2 separate regions of the Homo sapiens genome follow, and region 1 is linked to region 2. Evidence: fine-mapped expression QTL. A gene starts in region 2. The other region holds a variant in brackets. All regions are shown on one strand. Distances are between the middles of the regions.

What was found. PIP is the estimated chance that this variant, and not a neighbour inherited with it, causes the effect. A credible set is the group of variants that fine-mapping cannot tell apart.
Region 1: its variant is the best candidate, but not a certain one, in a credible set for the expression of CENPT in whole blood (TOPMed, PIP 0.50).

The regions. Positions count from the first base shown.
Region 1 is chr16:67,914,767-67,920,130 of GRCh38, forward strand. All of the region lies in intron 2 of PSKH1 (protein serine kinase H1), which reads left to right. Among named protein-coding and RNA genes, the nearest start is that of CTRL, 14 kb to the right of the region's middle. RefSeq lists enhancers at 950-1,473, 4,626-5,131. The variant G/A (reference allele first, on the strand shown) is at 3,158.
Region 2 is chr16:67,844,672-67,850,035 of GRCh38, forward strand. CENPT (centromere protein T) reads right to left here and starts at 3,022. Exons shown (of 16, transcript NM_025082.4): 1 at 2,730-3,022. It overlaps NUTF2 (nuclear transport factor 2), which reads left to right and starts at 2,262. Exons shown (of 5, transcript NM_005796.3): 1 at 2,262-2,314. RefSeq lists silencers at 1,748-2,017, 2,218-2,567 and an enhancer at 3,038-3,147.

The sequences.
Region 1 (5,364 bases), 70 kb after region 2:
AAGATAGATCTGGGAATGTCTGAAGCTTGAGAAGCTGATTGTGTTCTGGGAGCACTGCATGGTGCCAGGCTGTTGAGGGTCCAGCTGGCAGAGGGGGCATTGAACTTAGCCCAGGAGTGAGGGAGAGAGATTTCCCAAGATACGCTGACAGAGGAAGGACTCTGCTACAAGCCTGTAGGTTTGCCTGAGTTCCTGATTCTGGCAGTCGTTGACCTGGCAGCTAATCTAATTGGAGCTTGCACAGTCTTGCTAACTGGCTATTGATTACCTGAGGGTTGGAAAATGACGAATGGGGTGGGGAGTGGGTTCCTGCCCGCTCCTACTGTAGCCGAAAGACTGGGTCCTTAGATTCTGTTGTTCTTCTGCTGGAATCACAGGGCAGGACTCTGCAGCTCACAGTGAATGAGTGAGTGAATGAGTGAGTGAGTGAGAGAGAGAGAGAGTGTGTGTGTGTGTGTGTGTGTGTGTGTGTGTGTTGGAGAGGCACTGCTCAGCCTTTGCTCCCACTACCCTTTACCTGGAGCTGAAAAGCATCAGTTTCCAGCTCCAGAGGCAAATCCTGGCAGGTTCTGGTGGCCCTTATCTGTGACCAGGAGCTTGCCTGACCCCAAAAATCAGATTCTATCACCCGCTGTGGAGAGCTCTGGGTTGGGAGGGATCCGTCTGGGACATTTCCTGGGGGAGGGGTCCTTATCATGAGATCAGGCTCTCTCAGCTGGAGAACATCCAGCAGACCCTCAGGCCCCACAAAACCTGTTGAATCAGAATCTACATTTTAATGAGATTCCAGGGGATGTGCATAAACATCAGGAGTCTGAGAAGTACCAGCCTCTGCCACTCCCTGGCAGAGCCCTGGTTTCTCTTTACTTTTCTGCATGGAGGTGAGGACAGACATCGCTAGAATGGGACCCAGCAATCACTCCTTCCAGCCACTCACTTCACAGCTAGACGGTCTCCTGGTAAGCAGAGGCAGCACCTCCTTCAAGCTCCTGCCAGCAACCTGGCATGCTTTTATAGCTCTATCCCAGGACACTAGGACAGGCATTTTTTGTTATTGTTGTTCTCCTGGCCACTGCCCACCCACAAGCACACCTGCTCACACCTGGGGAAAATGCAAGAGACGTGAAGGCCTGTTCTTCCTATCCCTAGAGGTTGAGATTGCCTGGGGAGAAGGAACTAGAATAGGGAATGGCCATAGAATGAACCCGCATTGGCAGACACATGTGAACACAGGCCTTGGCATAGAGCCACTGGGCCTGGGCAGTCTGGAACATGGACTATGGTGCTCAGGTCAGGTGGTTGGGCCCTGACCCCACCCACTCCAGCCATCTGTCCTATATGTGTAATAGGTGTTTGCCATTAGGAAGGCCATGTAAGTGAGCAAGCCTCTGCCAGGATAACCTGTGAGAGAGAGAGTGTTCCATGATGAGGGGGTTGTTGCTGTGTGAATGAAGGACCTCTGACGCAGCAGCGTTTGGAGGTATGCATTCTTCACCAGCGAGTGTCTCGTGGTGCTTGGTGCCTTTCTAGGGGCACCTTTCCTGTTCCCTGACCCCATAGAGTGCTCTCCCCTGTACACCAGGCCGGGTCTGGTGTGCCTATTTCCTGCAAGCTCTGTCCATGCAGCCCCAGTCCTCTGTCAGGCTCAGTGGCATCCATGGACTTGAATAGAAAGCTTCCTGCAGAAGATGAGTTTTGAGAAGGAGGAGGCCCAGAGAAGGGAGCATTGCTGAGTGCTCCAGAATAAACAGGAGATTGGGAGTGACAGAGCAGAGGTTGAAGAGGCTGGGGCAGGTCTGGTGTTTGTTGTTGGGAGCCCTCTGCACTGTGGGAGGAGCCCTCTGGGTTCTGGGTAATGGAGGAGGAAGGCAGCAGAAAGTGGGAATGGAGCCTGGCAGGAGGAAGGCTAGCTGGAGGCTACTGGAATAATTCCATCCTGTCCTCCTGGGGATGTTTGGGGCAGATCAGGGATCCCAGGGAGTGGGATCCACATGGCATATGTAAGCCACAGTATAGGAGGTGAAGGAGTATGGAGCAGAGTCCTAGCTCTGCAGGAGGGACATCAGCTTGTATGGGCAGACTTGGAGAGGATTCCAGGCTACCCTCTGACCTGGAGAGCATGTGGGGTCCTGCCTACCATCCTGGCACTCCAGATCCCCCAGCCTGAAGCCCATGCCCTAGACCCCACCCCACTCCCTGCACACCACAGGCCTGAGCCATTGCCCCCATTCACTCTCCACACCAAGCTTCTGCCTCAACTGTTCACGCTGCTCCCAGTATCGGTCTTAGTTGTTTCCTTTAGAAATAATGCTGCCTACTGCCATTGTGTGGTGCCCACTAAGTAGCAGACCCAGGGCTGAATGTTCTACACCCCCCATCTCCAATCTATGACAACCCTGCCAGGTGGTACGTAATCCCCCACCTTACAGATGAGGAAACTGAGGATGGTGAGGTTACATAACTTGGCCATGGTCTCCCGACTGGAGGGTGGCACATCTGGGATTTGATTCCAGGCTGTCTTGGCTTCAGAGTTCTTGGCCTGTCTAGTGCTGCAGTCTGCTCTCCCTGGTATGTGTGCCTCAGCACGTTGCTGGTTTCTTGTTTCAGTGCTTTCTGGCTGCTGATCAGTGGACACATCTCTCCTGTCTAGCCTGTAGGGTCCTTGAGGACAGCATGTACATCAATACATATGCTGTCCACTGTCGTGTCCAGGCTTAGTGCACAGTGGTACCTGTATGCTGGGTTGAACTGCAGTATTTATAAGTGATAACTGGTGGGGGAATTTTCTCTTGGCTTCTCCTGAGGGAAGCACCAGTGGCTATTGGTGATGCCCTGGGAAGCGTCCCAAATGTGACTGCTGGCAGGCAGACAGGCTGTGCAGCCAGTGGAGTGCTCCCCTCAAGGGGCCAGACTCCAGGAGGAAGCAGAGAGCCTGCTGGCAATGCGCTTAGGGGGCTGCTGGCCACAGCTGCCTGTGGGCACAGGCAGGGGGAGGATTTAAAGGCCCAGGGCTGGTGTGTGCTTGTCAACTTTTAGGGCAAATACAAGACTCTTGGAAGAGGGGTAAATGCTGAGGAGGAGATGACTGGAAAGGAAAAATCTGAATGTTTACCCAGCACCCAGAGGCACTGGAGTGGAGAGGGCACGCTGGAGTGGA[G/A]AGGGCATGCTGGAAGTGGTGGGGAGACACAGGTTGGGAGAGGTAGCGAAGGCCTGTGTGAATGTGAGAGCAGTTTGAGGACACAGTCACCTTGAGAGGCGGCTTCCTATCACAGGAGGCCTGGAGGAGCTGTTTCTAAAGGATGACACAGAAGGTGAGTCATCAGCTACAGACTCATGCTAGAGAACTGTCAGGGTCCTCCAATGCAGAGAGTCTGTGATTCACTTGACATGAAATGTGACATCCTTGATGTCAGTGCTTTTGTCAAGAGTTCTATTCCTAGAGGCAGGACGGATGAAGGGGCTCTTGTAGGATTGATATTAGAGTGATGCCATTAGGAGCTTTGCTGTCTGCTGCATTCAGCATCCTGAATTATCACCCTCCTCTGCTTGGCCAGTCTCTGAGCTGTGGGTGAGCCCAGGTGACTGTACTAGGAACAGGTGGGCTTGGGTAGAATTTCTCACAGAGCCTTGTGAGTGCTGCTGGGCAGGGGACAGAGTACTGTTGGGAGAGGAAGCCCACCTTCATAGCCACTCTGCTGCTACCTGGGTGACAAGGGCTGGTGGGAGGTGGCCTCCCAGGGTTGGGTGTCTGGTCTGCAGGTTGACCATACATTGATCTGGGGCTAAGTATACCTGAAGGGGCAATGAGCTTGACCACCTGTAGTTCTTTTTTTTTTTTTTTTTGAGATGGAGTCTTACTCTGTCGCCCAGGCTGGAGTGCAGTGGTGTGATCTCGGCTCACCAAAGCCTCCACCTTTTGGGTTCAAGCAATTCTCCTGCCTCAGCCTCCCAAGTAGCTGGGATTATAGGTGCCAGCCACCACACCTGGCTAATTTTTGTATTTTTAGTAGAGACGGGGTTTTACCACGTTGGCCAGGCTGGTCTGGAACTCCTGACCTCAGGTGATCTGCCTGCCTTGGCCTCCCAAAGTGCTGGGATTACAGGTGTGAGCCACCACACTCGACCTCCCCACTTCTTAAAGTGACTCTAACATGCCTTGGGATGTAGAAGATAAAATGAGATGCAGAGAATGTGGCATGTCTCAGTGCTCTCTAGGTGACGGGGCTTGGTTATGCAGCCTGGTCCTATGCTCTGACTTTCTGTCTCCCTCCCTGCCCCTCATCTCCCCGCATATGTCACAAGGAGCAGCCATGTGAGCAGGGATAGGACCTCATCCCAGAGTCATGGGGAGCGCTGTCCGGGTGTCTGGAGAGCAGGAGACCAAATGTATATGCTGGTGGCAGAGTGGAGGCAGGGAAGCGGGGAGCGTGTTTCCTGGCTTATGCTTGGATTCTCCTGGATGCTTTAATTGCCTGACTTTTCTCACCTTCAGTGTGGGTGGGGACTGTGATGGACCCATCAGCTCAACTCTCTTCTCACTGACCCCTGCTCCCAGAGTCAGAGGATGGCTTTCCCACGACTGTCTCAATAGCTGACAGCACGAGCAAACACAAATCAGTTTAGAATTCTTTGCTATGAGGCATCTGTCCCTAAGCCCTTCTTCCCTGCCAGCCTGCTGGGGCTGCTGCATGTCAAGTGCTGGATGCTTGTGCTGTCTGTGTGTGAGGATCCCATGAGGATGATCAGATGCCCCCATACCTGGCCAGGAAGGTTCCCTTGGGAAAAGCCATCCCCACTTCACCAAAACACGAAGTGTTCAACAGATTAAGTCTCCCTCCTTCACTGCAGGAGCCAATGCCCTCAGGCTGGATTCCTGACTAGTCACTGGGAGGTGGCATGGTTTGGGCCACTGGATGGAGGCAGTGGACCCTCAGTTGGTCACTGTGGCTGGGGACCTGCCCTTGGTTGGAGACCTCTGGCAGGAAGGCAGAGGAAGCTCTCTCCATGTGAGGCCAGAGGAAGCTCTGAGTGGAGAAGAGCAGCAGCCCCATCTTGTGTCACCTCTGTGCCACCACTGGGCTCCCCAGAGCCCTGTCCTCTAGGTTTCCCTTTGTCACTGCTGCCCTGGTTGCATACACCCCAGAAAGCAGCAACTTCCCTGTAGTGGCAGGAGCAGACCCACCCGCCACGCTGCTGCATTCAGCCGTTCCTGCTGACCACCCATAGCATCACGTCACCCTGGGTCACAGCTGCCTTTCATCACTTTTTCCACCTCCAGCCCTTGAGGCCTGGCCAACAAAGAGCAGGGTGTGGTGGCTTGCACTCAGAGCCATCCCTGGTGCGTCAGCCATCCCCTCCCTCTCC
Region 2 (5,364 bases):
AGATACCTTGGCCTTGGTACACCTTCGGTGTGACAGAGCTGTATCCACAGAGAGCATTAAGAAGTTGGGAGGTGTGATTCCTTGACTCATTTTCTTGGCTGCCTGCCTCTATTTTTTTTTTTTTATTTTTTTTTAAGATGGAGCTTTGCTCTTGTCACCCAGGCTGGAGTGCAATGGTGTGATCTCAGCTCACTGCAACCTCTGCCTCCCAGGTTCAAGCAATTCTTCTGCCTCACCCTCCTGAGTAGCTGGGATTATAGGCACCCGCCACCACGTCGGGCTGATTTTTGTATTTTCAGTAGAGACAGGATTTCACCATGTTGGCCAGGCTGGTCTCGAGCTCCTGATCTCAGGTGATCCGCCTGCTCTGCCTCCCAAAGTACTGAGATTACAGGTGTGAGCTACCCCGCCCAGCCTCTATTTTTTCTTAGATTGAATATTGAAGGGGCAAGGATTACATTGCTTTTGTCTATAGCTCCAAGTAATTTAGCTCAAAGCCAATGTCTAAAAGTAAATGCCTTTAAAGCTCTGGGTTTACTGTGGGTGGTGGGGCACAAACGGAGACTTTCAGACCCCATAAAATATGACTCCCTTCTCTTTCTTACTTATGGACAAAGCCATCTGCCTGGGGACTTGTCTGTGGCAACATGCTGGGATGGTCCTAAAACTCAAGTCTCTGTTTCCCTTCTAGTCCCTTAGCACTGAGTTGGGAAAGTGGTGGGGAAGGAGTGAGACATAGGTTGTGTAGGTGGCTGGTTGGGGGATGGACTGGACCTCTGTCTTCCTAGGGTTAGATCTGGCTGGTAATCAGGTGGTGGAAGCACTGCAGTGCCCTTTGTTGCTCCTATTGGGCCAGTCTCACATCTTCCCGGTCGGAGCAAGGCCTTTTCCAGGATCCAGCCATGCTCTTCAGTGTATCCTTGAGCTCCTATTTATTGAAGGGACTTCTGCTGTTTCTGCATTGGCTCCCTTGAGGCTCTCAGCAGTACTCCCTGGACCCTCCCTGGTGTCTGGAGGTTATGGGCAGTGTTTTGGCTTCTTAGGGAGAAGAAGACAGTTCACAGAGCAAGGGAGATCCCAGATGCAGATGTATAAGCGGGGCAATGCAGAGTTCTCACTAGCTGAGTAATAAGCATCTAGTCAGGCAAAGTGTAGTGTTGACAGACCTGAGATTTAAAAAACAGAAGTGTGGTCCGGTCTTACCAGCCATCTCTTGGAGGGGTAGCCTGTGGGTGGGGGAAGGTGCAAAACTCTTGTGGAAGAACAGGAGTACTGAGAGACCTCCGGCCAGGAAGGAAGGCTAGGAGTTGCCTGGAGAGGCCTTGTAGCCATTTCCCTTACCTGTGGTACCCCAAGTTGGCTGCAGATCTCTTTGCCAAGCACAGGTCTGACCTAGAGACTGGCCTTACCACAAATGTTTGTGTTACCAAGAAAACAAATGGGCGTTGAAAGGAAAGGGCAATGGGTAGGAAGAGAACTATTTACAATCTGGTCACTTAAATCACAGCGAAATTTTGGGTAAGTCAGTCATTTCTCTTTCCTCATTAATAAAAATGAAACACTTAGCTGCTCTATCTGCTGCAAAAAAACCTTACAGAATGTTTTGGGGGGACCCCTGACTGTAGAAGTTTGAGGGTAACCTCTCCAACCAAGCCCCACCTGAGGGACATTTGAGTCTCCGGCCCAAGAATAGCCTAGCCTGCTCGAAACCAGCTTTGGGCCCGACTCGCCGAGGTGCAGGCGCACGAATGTTGGGATTGCAGGAGCTGTGCGTTCCGCCCGGGCTGGTTAAGGCCACACAGCTCGGAAGAGTAACAGCGGCAGCCATAGCCCCAAGGGGAGGGGGTTTCGTGAGCGGAAACGGCCCAGGGGCCCAGGGAGGGGCAGCTGGGCCAGCTTGGGGCCGGGCTGGGCTCCCACGGAGGCGGGGCCAACCCCCACCCCAGTGCACAGACTGGGCGGGGCCGAGCCAGCTGAGACCAGGAGACAACTGAGCCCTGACCCTAGCCTGGCGCCAACCTCTAGTGTTCCAGAGGCTTCCGCTAGACCACAATTCTCAGGGGCTTGCCCCGGCAGCCTCCCTCCCTGGCTTAGCCTCACCTCCCGCGCTGCGGGCCGTGTCTGGGCCTCCGCGCATAGCACGCCGGGAATTGTAGTTTTCTCTCGGCGCGCTCATGCCGGAAAGGGGGGGCGGTGGGACTGCGTCTCCCAGAGTGCAGCGGGGCGGGCGAAGGAAGGCAGGGGGGAAGGGACAGTCGGCCGCAGACCGCGCTGGGTTGCCGCTGCCGCTGCCGCCATCGTGCCAGCCCCTCGGGTGAGTGTCGGGGCCAGCACGCCGGGGCGGGGGCTGGGCCGCAGGAGCCGCTCTCTGGGCTGCCGGGAGGCTCCGCTGAGAGTCCCCGGGCGGCCCCTCCCCTCCCCCCCCCCCGGCGGCCCGAAGCCGCGCGGGGCCCGGGCCATGTGTCGCGCGCGGCTCCGCCTCCCGCCGGTCCTGTGAGGCGGCGGCCGGGGGTAACGCACAGAGAGCCAGCCGGGCGCCTATCTGGGCCGTACCGTGCTGGTGGCTGGTGCACCGGCCTGCGCCATGGCCAGGCCTTTTTCTCTAGTCAGGACCGTCCGGATGGGGCCTTAGGGCCCCGCCCCGTCTAGCCTGGCCCGGCCTGCGCGAGCCCCGCAAGCTCTGCAGGCTGGCTAGCGGGCAGACCCCAGCCCCACGTCCTGCTACCCACCTACGAAGGATCCGGGGATGGGCAGCGCCACCCGGCCCGCTCCAGAGTCAGCATGGGTAAGGGCGCCCGCCTGCCGCAGCCGGGGCTTGGGCCCCTCACCCTGTTCCCGACCATAGCCCGGCCGGGGTGTAGGTGAACGCCCCCTCCTTGTCTGCCCCTCGGAAGTGTACGTTTCTTACCGCGCCCTTTGTGGAGCCCGGACTGGAGTTCTCGCAGGGAGGGCAGGGTCAGGGAATATGAGGCGGGAGGGGATTCCACGGGAGACTTTATCCCTGTCTTGTCTTAGAGGATCTGGGCCTGATGGGGTGAGGCGGCTCCTGCCGGGTAGGCCCAGCCCACGCCCTTCTCTATCAGTGACCAGGCCCCAGCAGCAACACAGAATTGCCCCGCAGGACAGGATGACTTCATAAGAATGGGATGTTAAGGTGGGACTTAATGCACGGGAAGTAGAATTCAGGCCTGAGGTTCTTGAGCCTAGTGCTAAACCAGAACCTGGGCTGGAAGGGGCTTTGGGGGGTGGGGCACGTAGATTTCAGACTTTGTGGGGCCCTCCCGAAGCCTGGGTGGCAGAACTAGGGCTGGAAGCTCCAGAAAGTCTGGCTTCCCCTCACTTGCTTGCTCACTTCCCAACAACTGGAGCTGCCTGTAAACAGGCAGGAACCTGGTTGCTTTATGAAATTGCCCTTACTGATGCCATCAGAGACCCTACTGAGTTCTGGGGGAAGAGTTATCTTTGACCAAAAAATACTATCCTGATATCCTTTGTAAAGGCGCTTCTGATTGAGAGATGGTAAATTAAGGAACCAGTCCAGAGAAGACCTTGGGACTAGGGGAGAGATGGCATGTAAAGCGTTGATTTCTCTGAGCCGCAGTCTTTCCAGAGACTAAAGAAGTAGCTCAGGCCTGGCGCGGTGGCTCACGCCTGCAATCCCAGCACTTTGGGAGGCCAAGGCCAGCGGATCACCTGAGGTCCGGGGTTCCAGACTAGCATGGCCAACATGGCAAAAGCGCATCTCTACTAAAAATACAAAAATTAGCTGAACGTGGAGGTGCACTTCTGTAATCCTAGCTACTCAGGAGACTGAGGCAGGAGAATTGCTTGAACCCGGGAGGTGGAGGTCGCAGTGAACTGAGATCATGCCACTGTACTCCAGCCTGGGTGACAGGGCAAGACTCTGTCTCCAAAATAAAAAAAGCTGGGTGTGGTGGCGTGCACCTGTAATCCCAGCTACTTGGGAGGCTGAGGCAGGAGAATCGCTTGAATCCGGGAGGCAGAGGTTGCAGTGGGCAGAGATCATGCCACTGCACTCCAGCCTGGGCGACAGAGCAAGACTCTGTCTCAAAAAAAAAGAAAAAGAAAAAAAAAAAAAGCAGCAGCAGCTCAATCTCTGCAGCTCTGGCCTCAGGAGCAAGCAGAATATCAGGTCTCTTAGAAGGGCTGATTGAGACCCAAGGTGAAGAAAGCCACTGACCCTGCATATTTTTTTCTTCCTCCTTGAATATTTTCCCAGGTAATGTTTTTCTGTTCATTTCTGGTCACTTCTTCCAAGTACTCTTGACCTAGAAGTTTTCTTGCATATGAATTGCTCTGCCTAGTTATTCTCCCTGGTCAGGAAGAATAGGCAAGAATGCTGCTCAGATTTTACCAAGCCCTGCCTTCTCTCTGGATGTAACTTTCCTAGTCCATATCCTGGCCCATGAGGACATGGAAATCAGGTTCATCCAAGAGGCTCAGGAGAGGCCAACTTTGCCAGTGGAGCTGGGCAATAAGGAGGGACTACCCACAGGACAATGAGGTGAAATCTAGAACTAGAAGCAGTTATTTCAAGACCCTGTAGATTGTCTGCGTGGGTACTTTCTAGGACACAGATTTCAGGTGAGCTGGCTTACGGCTATGGCGTAGTTTGCGTATTTCATGGCCCTGGGTGACTTGACCAGGAGAGTTTTTGTTTTTCTCTCGAGACGGAGTCTCTCTCTGTCACCCAGGCTGGAGTGCTGTGGTGCGATGTCGGCTCACTGCAACCTCCGCCTCCTGGGTTCAAACGATTCTCCTGCCTCAGCCTCCCTGGTAGCTGGGACTACAGGCGCACGCCACCATGCCTGGCTAATTTCTGTATTTTTAGTAGAGAAGGGGTTTCACCATATTTGTCAGGCTGGTCAAACTCCTGACCTCAGGTGGTCTACCTGCCTTGGCCTCCCCAAAGTGCTGGGATTACAGGCATGAGCCACTGATCCCGGCCTAATTTTATTTTTATTTTTATCTATTTATTTATTTTGAGACGGAGTCTCACTCTGTCACCCAGGCTGGAGTGCAGTGGTGCGATCTCTGCTCATTGCAAGCTCCGCCTCCCGGGTTCACAGCATTCTCCTGCCTCAGCCTCCCGAGTAGCTGGGACTACAGGCGCCCACCACCACGCCCAGCTAACTTTTTGTATTTTTAGTAGAGACGGGGTTTCACCGTGTTAGCCAGGATGGTCTCGATCTCCTGACCTCGTGATCCGCCCGTCTCGGCCTCCCAAAGTGCCGGGATTCCAGGCGTGAGCCACCACGTCCGGCCTTATTTTTATTTTTTGCAGTGATGTCATCTCCATATGTTGCCCAGGCTGGTCTCAAACTCCTGAGTTCAAGCGATACT